Homo sapiens: one gene and its partner. The protein of the gene in region 2 purifies or fractionates together with the protein of the main gene of each other region. This does not show direct contact. Each region holds a gene or a part of one and is shown on either strand. Other genes may lie near its edges.

What was found.
Region 1: the proteins of POLN (region 2) and BRIP1 purify together in Homo sapiens (affinity purification with western blotting; one study listed by BioGRID). This does not show direct contact.

What each region holds. Positions count from the first base shown.
Region 1 is NC_000017.11:61,860,723-61,865,073, reverse strand, and holds the start of BRIP1 (Fanconi anemia group J protein), read left to right. Parts: upstream 1-1,545; 5' UTR 1,546-1,790; exon of another isoform or gene 1,791-3,164; intron 3,165-3,504; 5' UTR 3,505-3,534; coding exon 3,535-3,627; intron 3,628-4,351. UniProt on the Homo sapiens protein: DNA-dependent ATPase and 5'-3' DNA helicase required for the maintenance of chromosomal stability. Acts late in the Fanconi anemia pathway, after FANCD2 ubiquitination.
Region 2 is NC_000004.12:2,239,322-2,243,921, forward strand, and holds the start of POLN (DNA polymerase nu), read right to left. Parts: upstream 2,801-4,600; 5' UTR 2,730-2,800; intron 2,470-2,729; 5' UTR 2,199-2,469; intron 1,773-2,198; exon of another isoform or gene 1,626-1,772; coding exon of another isoform or gene 717-1,625; intron 1-716. Other genes in the region: HAUS3 (HAUS augmin-like complex subunit 3), read right to left, coding at 717-1,625. UniProt on the Homo sapiens protein: DNA polymerase with very low fidelity that catalyzes considerable misincorporation by inserting dTTP opposite a G template, and dGTP opposite a T template. Is the least accurate of the DNA polymerase A family (i.e. POLG, POLN and POLQ).

The DNA of each region.
Region 1 (4,351 bases), on a different chromosome or scaffold from region 2:
GCAAGCTCCGCCTCCTGGGTTCACGCCATTCTCCTGCCTCAGTCTCCCGAGTAGCTGGGACTACAGGCGCCCGCCACCACGCCCGGCTAATTTTTTGTATTTTTAGTAGAGACGGGGTTTCACCGTGTTAGCCAGGATGGTCTTGGTCTCCTGACCTGGTGATCCGCCTGCCTCGGCCTCCCAAAGTGCTGGGATTACAGGCGTGAGCCACTGCGCCCGGCCAAGAGTTGATGTTTTAAAAATTATAAAAGAGAAATGACAATTTGAAGGTATTTTTAAGGATTTATTTTTAAACATTATCCTTCCTTTCATTGTCTTAACAGTAAATTACTTCATCTTTGCTCATTCATATGTATTTTCACATTACTGAATCCCTAACACCCAGTTTGGGGTTTGCTTTGCCTTTTTTCACTTAACCTTATATGGGATTTTTTCTTGCAAGTTTAATTTTTATAAGTTTATTGGCTTCATAATGTATTGAATTCATCTGTCATAACCACCTCCATATTACTAGACTGGGAAGTTCATAATTTTTTTCAGTATTACCAATAGATATTATTGTCAATTGCGGTATCACATTTTCTTTCGTTTAGATTACGTCTTTAGGATAAATATCTGGAGCTCAGATTACTAGGTCAAAGGGTAGAGTTTATTTTTATGACTACAAGTTTTGTCATTTTTGGTAAGATATATCACAATTGACAATGAGGCAAACAAATCAACTAGCCCCCTCCTGCTCTTTCTTCCCAGCAAACTCCTTCCCCAAACTAGTTACTTGAATTTGAGAAACAGTATGAGGTTTTGCCTTTTGGAGACATTATTATTTGAGCCAAGTTTAGGTTATACAGATTTTTTAAAAAAATAACATGATTTGGCAAGATCATGATGAACCTCCTTTTCTTTGAGTAAATTAAAGTACTACTGGCAAATAATAAACTGGTCTTAGGAGGGATGGAAGGCGGATAAGCCTTAATGGAAGTAGAAGTGATCTGATACTGGAGACCCTGAGAGCTTGTCTCTGGCTTATTTTAGCATCCGGGAAAGCCTTGAATATTATGAAAGATAGATTGTAGCCCGATGTCACAGAGCCTTCTTACTTAAGTTTGGCTCAGCAGTCTGGCAATTCCCGCCTGAGTCTTCGCTATCCTGGCTACTGCAAAGCTGGGTAATTTAAATTGAGTGGCACTGATAAATGCTCAAAGAACTTGGCAAAGCTTAAAGATACTTCCTTTCCGCTGGTCTACGGACGTGAAGAATGAGACTTCCAGTTTCCAAGGAATTTGCTGCATAGACTCTATCGCCGGTTTCAAAAGTCAAACTGAGACGACTTTCTACTTTAAACAAACACTAGGGATTTGCTGGAGTGGCGACAACCTTCCGCCGCGTACCTTGAGCCCTTGTTTTTTTTTTTTTTTTTCGGAGACTTCCATTGGATGCCGAAGTTCTCGCCCCCTCACCTCGCACCGGGACTGGTTGATTCCTGGCCTTGGCGGGTGATTGGTCGAGCTCGCTGGGCTATTGGGCGCTGGGAGTCGAGGGGGCGGGAGGCGGGAATTCGTCTCGGGTTGTGTGGTTGAGGGGTCTGGTGGGTCGAGGAAAGGTAACGGCGGCCCCAGTCCTGCACACAAGGCCGGGGAAGTAGCAGCACCCCCAGGAAGAGGGAGGAGGAAGGGCTCGTGCCCTTTCTTCTCTTCCAGGGCTCCGCTTTATTTGCTCTCAGAAGTCGGTTTCCTTTCCTTTTCTTCAGTGAATCGGAGCTCAGAGCGTTGCTTCGGTTTCCCTCCAGACAGGCAAGTCGGAGGGAAGTCCACGGAAAGGGCTTGAGTTCTTCTGCACAGCCTGCGGGCCCATGGGTGGTGACTGGATCACCAGGGTCTCGGGGATCTCAACTGGCTGGGGGAGGAGGGAGATACGGGGCAGAAAACCTGAGGAGGGAGCCTATCCTTACCTCCTTTGAGCGCAGGCCTGTTCTTAGCCCGGGCGCTGCGTTAATTCTTGGCGGGAGGCAGAGGGGTGTGTTTATCCTTTATGCAATGTTTGGGGGAAGCTACCCCATTTTGACACTATTGTTGCCACAGCCGGGGTACAGGACGGGCTGATTTCTAGATTATATCTGAGTAACTAGGCCAGCGTTGAGTTGTTGATTCATATTAAGAGGTTAGATTCCACCATACCTCATTCTCAGAGCTTTACAGATAGAATCGCAAAATGTTAGAGCTGGAAAATACCCTAGAATAATGGTTCTTCTTTTGGAGCACACAAGCAGTGGTGAATGTTATTATTGGCTTCATAATCTATTGAATTGCTATTTTAACCATCTCTTCGTCCCCAGGTTGAATTTACAATTTTTTCCCACGACTGCAAATAATTCCTTATTTAATAACAGTGCATGTAATTTCCCCCGCTATTTTGATTTCCTTGAGATATATTTACGGGAAGAGAAATCTATGGACTTTTTCTTCAGAAAAATGCAATCATGTACAGAAACTTATGCTTGCAATTTCAAGAGGTCATTGTCTCTGAATTACATCCGTGGATCCTAGGTTAAGAAAAGTGGTTTAGAAGAGGTGAGGATTAAAGTGATCCTCATCTGTATCAGATCCTGGGTTAGGTACATTCTGCCCTGGCTAATTTTCATAAAAACCCTGTCAGGTAAGTAGTAGTATTTCAATTCCATATATGGAGAAACAAGCTCTGAGAAGTTAAGTGATTCACACAGTGGAATTCAAACTTAGGATTGCCTTACTCCAAAGCCCATCCTGTTTCTATAATACTCTACTGATCTTCAAATAACATTTTTGAGTGCCTACTATGTGCCAAGGCATTCTCTTTCTTATAACAGCCTTTAAATTAAATTAGGGGTTATCACAGGTAAGGATCTTAGACTAGAGAAGTAAAAAGATATGTCAAAGATAACATACCTGAGTCAAAGATAACATACCAGGCAGTATACCAAAACCTGGTATAGAACCTATGCTTCCTGACTTCTGGTCAACAGCTTTTTTCTTCTAACTGGAGGACTGCAGAAAGGGGTAACACAAAGGGGAAGAACTGGAGAAAGAGTGATGCTACGGAGTTGTAGAGAGAGAGGCCTCAGGAACTTATTTGTTTCTGTAGGTTGATTACATCTGATCTAACTGTTACAAGAGCTCATGTTTAATCTGGTATGTACTTTATCATATTTGCACATTATTTCACTTAATCATTACCACAATCCTATGGGGTACATGCAGTCACTGTGGCTTAGAGAAGGTAACTAACTTTCCCGAAGTCACACAACTAATACCTGGCAGAGTGAAGGATACAAATCTAGATTTGTTAGACTCTAAGACATGCTCTTGACCGCTGTGATTTATAAGACTAGGAAATTATTTTGTTTCCATTTGTTTTGTTTATACTTTTATTAATTCCAGTTTCTGTTTCCAGATTTCTCCCTTAGTTTTGGTTCTCTGGTTTTCTTTGTAAGGCGTGTCTCAATATTTGACATTTTCATTTCTGTTGTAGTTAGGAATCTGAAATAAACAGGAAAGCACTATGTCTTCAATGTGGTCTGAATATACAATTGGTGGGGTGAAGATTTACTTTCCTTATAAAGCTTACCCGTCACAGCTTGCTATGATGAATTCTGTAAGTATTTTTCAGCAGTTAAGTTTTTATTAAGATATAGATACTTATGACCCATAAAGTACATTGAGTATTTGACTGCATTCATATTCTCAGTAAATGGAGAATATTTTCTGGGTTCACTTGGAAGAATATCTAACCTCTGGGAAACTACTGATTGCAGCTAAACTGTATATATCTGTGGTTAAGGCAAAGAAGAACATTCTGAAAAATGTTCTCAGCTCATTTGGAATTTCTATACTTTTAATGAAAAACTGCTATACTTTTAAGTAAAAACAGAGTATTTACTATCTTTTACACAGAATACTATTTTTCTCACCATTGTTTTGTTTGGATCATGTAGAAAATTAATATACAAATTTGAGTAAACCAGCTTTCCAGTTTTGTTACAGCTATTTTGCCATATGTACTTCATATCTTATTTACTGGTAACAAGATTATTAGTATCCTGAATTTGTTCTTTTCCTTTCCTAGCCATGTTTTTATACTTTTATTACATATATATGTATCCATAAACAATATAGAATATTATTTTACATATTTGAAACTGTGCATTGATGTGATACGGTACCTTACTTTTTATGCAGAACTTGAGTTTTTTAACTTAGCATTATTTTTAATGTATAGCCCTGTTGATTCTTAATCCATTTTAATTGTTGTATAAATTCCATTGGATGAATATACCAGAATTTATCTGTCCATTTTCTTATTGGTAGACATTTAGGTT
Region 2 (4,600 bases):
AATAGGACACTATTCACTGAATCCAAGTATATGTTACTAGTTTTTCTTAAGTTAAAATTACTTCAATAGGTCCTAGTTGGCCAGTTGATTTTAGCACTTCTACGTAATTATTGGATTTCCTATATCATTCAAATGTTTTGTCAGCTATAGAAACTAACTTGGTGCTGATATTCTGATTCAGAAAAGTTACATTTTTACTCAAGTATCTAGCAGTTATATTACCAAGAAAACAAGCTCTCCAAGAGTGCAGACAGACATCTGCAATACATCTATCCATATATTCTCAAAAAGAAATCAGTTTCAGTCTACTGAACCTGGACCTCTGACTTCATTAGCACTATGCTCTGGTTGGAGCAAACGAGGCAGAATACCCATAATAAAGCAATTAGTTTCTAGCCACATCTTAAAAAGAAAATCTCAGTCCAGTCTGTATCTGCATTACACAAATTTAAAATTCGGAATGCAAATTAAAGCACTTTTGTTTAAAATAAATTAGATAATGTGGTAGAGATTATAATTACTATTGCTGCCCTCCATTAACGTATGGAACTATTTGTATGAAACATTGACACAGATCACAAATAAGCACTGAACAAAGAAAATAAAATGTAATCTCTTCTCAGATGCACCATTCTAAAGTACTTTAACAGCAATATTATCTCCTCTATTCCTAACAATAATTACAATGTGAATCCAATCTCATTTCTTATGCTTACCTTGCTGGTTAGGCTGTGAAGACTCTCCTCTGCCCATTTTATACTTGACTTCATGCTCGAATTACTTGCTTTTAAGTGAATTAACTGATGTTGAGCACAAATGTATGCGAGCTGCAGTCTAGCCATCTCTAGTCGTCTCTCCTCAAGGATTTCTTGATTATCACAAATAGATGGTGTCTGTATATCTAAAAGTTGAAAATTGTCTTCATTTGAACTTTCAACTACTTCATGTATACCCTGAAAGAACTGTTTTTTGGTATACAAAGTTAATGCTGCTGTGCTTTGCTCTTCCTGACTTAGGTATTTTTCCAAGGAAAATTGCGATAAAAATACCAGTGGATTTGTCCCTTGACCTAAATTAGAATGTCTGAAGAACATCATCAATTGTGTAACTTCATCAGTAAGAGCCTGAAGTTCATTACTGATCTTAGTGATCATTGCATTTAGAATTCCTTGACTCTGCTTCAGCTTTTTAGTGGCTTCTTCTTCTTTAGCATTTAACCTCAGAGATTTGTGGCTAGTTACTGAAGCCATCAATTGACATTTATTACGTCGCTGAATTTTTAGGTTCTTTAATTTCAGTAGAGTTTGAACCTCATCCTCTAATTTCTCCAGCTCTTTATCATCCAGTCTAGGTGTCTTCAAATCAGAAGTTTTACACGTTTTAAGAGCTTCATCCAATGCCGCCCCTTCTAGAATAGGCTTGCCTGATTTCTGAAGAATGCTAAAAGCTTCCAATTCTCTTTCAGACAACACGTTCTGTTCATTCACATTCCCACAAAACCACTTCAGAAACGATTCATCTTCAACGCCCTCAAACAACCAGTCAAAGTCTTCTCCATTAAGATTATCAGCTTTGGGATAACCAATTTTTTTTAATGTTTCCACAAACTCATTTCCACAACTCATGGTTTTAACTACCCCAATTTTGTTGTATCTGATATGGGTTTACGGTGTTGATTTTTAGAAAATAAATCCAAGCAGAAAAAAAGCTACGTTTTATACCAAGTCCACAGAGAAGGGAAAATATATTTTTAGAATCTATAATGATTCCTCCTAGGGGGGAAGAAAACAAGTATTAGACCACAAATATGACGACAGTGTTTTTAAAAAGAAGACACAGACAAATATCACATGATATCCGAGAGCGGGATAAATGACAGGTAGTCGTAGCTGCAATGTTTGATGATGATAAAGAGAAACAGAAACAATTAGGCTAGTTCTCAGAAAACCGCAACAGTAACGAAAAGTAATTAACAAGAAAGTGGATCTATTTGGATCCATTTTATCTTTTTTTCCAAAGATAAAATGGTTTAAAATGCATTACACTTTATAGAGCAGCATTTGTTTTTAATTCAAAATAAATGGATCCAAACAAACCCAAGCCACCAGGAGGCTAGGCAGCCTCTCTTCCCTGCCCTCCGTACGTAAGAAGACGCAAATAAGCATGGCACATCTTCTGAAGATCAACTAAATATTTACCTCAACGTCTCGCCGGGCAAGGCTCCACCTCCAGAGTCCACCACCGCGACGCGGAGAACAGCAGGAGCAGCAGGGAAGCGCGCGGCCACAATTAAGGGTGCTTCGGGCCGGCCTTCAGCCAGCGCTGAGGCAGCCCCGACGCCAGGGCCGCGCGAACCCCAGAGGCAGCGGCAAGCCCCAGGGATCCGCGGCCCCAAGGCCGCGATACACCAGACGCGCCAGCGGCAAAACCTTCCTTCGGAGGGTCACCCAGCTGTGACACCTAAGCACGCTGACAAAACAAACGCACAAGCCCACCGAATCGCCGTCGACACCGAGCTGCAGAAGACGGGGGTGACAGGCCCCGCACAGCCCCCGCCCCAGCTCCTCGCCCAGCGGACCGGGCCCTGATCCCCGGGCAGCTGCTGGAGCACCTGGAAGGAGCCCCCAGGAGCGCAGGAAAAAAAAGAGGCACCTGGGTGCAGACGGGGATCGCGGCCACTCCTCCAGCCCCACACCCCTGCGCCCAGAACCGAGGCCCGCGTCAGTCACCTCAGGAAGTTCCGCTTGCTTCTCGCAGGAGCCCGCCGCCACCGCCCTCCGTGCCCCGCGCGCCTCGCACTGCCTCACGGGAGCGCCTGGACGCGCGCAAGCGCACAAGGCGACGGCGTGGTCGTGGGGGATGACTGTTTGCGCAGGCGTAGTGTCAAAAGAGGCGGAGTCGGCGAGGCTGGACTATGGGGTGGAGCTGAGCAGGCGGCGCTCGGCCCCCGGCCGCTGCGGGCATCCTGCCTCCTGGGCGGGGCGCAGGGCAGAGAGAGGCGGGGTCTGGGCCGGGAAGGGCGGGGACAGGGCCTGGACAGGGGCGGGGCCTGGGCAGGGGGCGGAGCCTGGGCAATGAATGGGGTGCAGAGGGGTGCAGAGGGGTGCGGTGGGGCGCCCTCTGGGGAGCTGAAGCTGCGGGCCTGCTCTCAACGGAGCCGTCAGTTGTGCTTCAGGCCTGCCCTGCCCCGTACTTCAATCTAGACCCTCTGAAGGCACTTTTGAATGGTACAAAGAGCAGCGCAGGTTGGTGGTTGGGAGACAGGCTGGAGCCCGGCGGTGATAGCGCTCGCCCCCGAGAGAGACGAGTTCCCGGAACATTCACAGCAGCCCGACCAATGCCTGGTACATTTTAAGGGTTAGGGATTGTTCGCTTAGAGTCTTTTACAATGAACTTTATTTTGCAAAAACACTTAATTTCTAATCCCTCACCAGAACACTATGTAAAAGCTGACTTCTGGCCGGGCGCGGTGGCTCATGCCTGTAATCCCAGCACTTTGGGAGGCCGGGGGGGGGGGGGGGGGGGATCATGAGGTCAGGAGTTCGAGACCAGCCTGGCCAAGATGGTGAAACCCCATCTCTACTAAAAAATACAAAAATTAGCCGGGCGCGGTGGTGGGCGCCTGTAATCCCAGCGACTCGGGAGGCTGAGGCAGGAGAATCGTTTGAACCCAGGAGGTGGAGGTTGCAGTGAGCCGAGATCACGCCACTGCACTCTAGCCTGGGCGACAGAGCAAGACTCCGTCTCAAAAAAAAAAAAAAAAAAAAAGCTGACTTCCTCCACAATTCCCTTTTCAAAATGTTAGAAATAAACGGAATGGCCTGAGTTAAATACATCGATATATTTAACTCAAGGAGGATGGTACACCATTTCCAAAGAGGATGGCAGTCAGTGAAAGATGACTGAAACGGGATTGCTAAATTTCATGTGAATCTGGCTGATGCCCTACAGCCCAGTGAAACCAGACCTCTCTATTGGACAGAATTCGTTTGCATCTCTACCAAACAAAAATCCTTTGCCACTCCTCAGTCTTCCACAGGTTAGCAGGGGCTTTGGTCATGGGTAAATATAATAGTACTCCCTCCCTTCAGCGTCAAATGACCCTAAAGGTGGCTTGTTAGACAATGTCCTAGTCCAGGGTGACTAGGTAGAAGTCGTTTGGATAGTTTTTCTTAATATTTTTAAGGAGAGAAATAAGAATGTTCTAAGGCAAATATTGTAATCTGATCGAGTCAAAGATATTTCCTATTCATTCTTCACTTGTTTCACGTTTTTTTCCTCCTCTTTTAAAAGTCAATAAGGCCTAAAATGATCTGAAAAACAAACATGATGGGAAAAAATTCAAAGAGTGGTGCCCAATCTGCAGGCAAGGAAACCAGGGATGCTGGAACGGGGAGGCCTGGTGGGAGGACCCTTGCAGCCCAGGGTTGGAGGTTGGGGGTGTGCATCAGGGGGCAGAGTTGAGCCAGTTTGGACAGGAGGAAGTGGGAGCTGTGCAGGCAATGCCTTCCAGAAATGTTGCTGATGAGGCAAAGACTGGGTGGGAGGAGTGTGACACAGAGAGAGAGATACAGAGAGACAGAGAGAGACAGAAACAGAG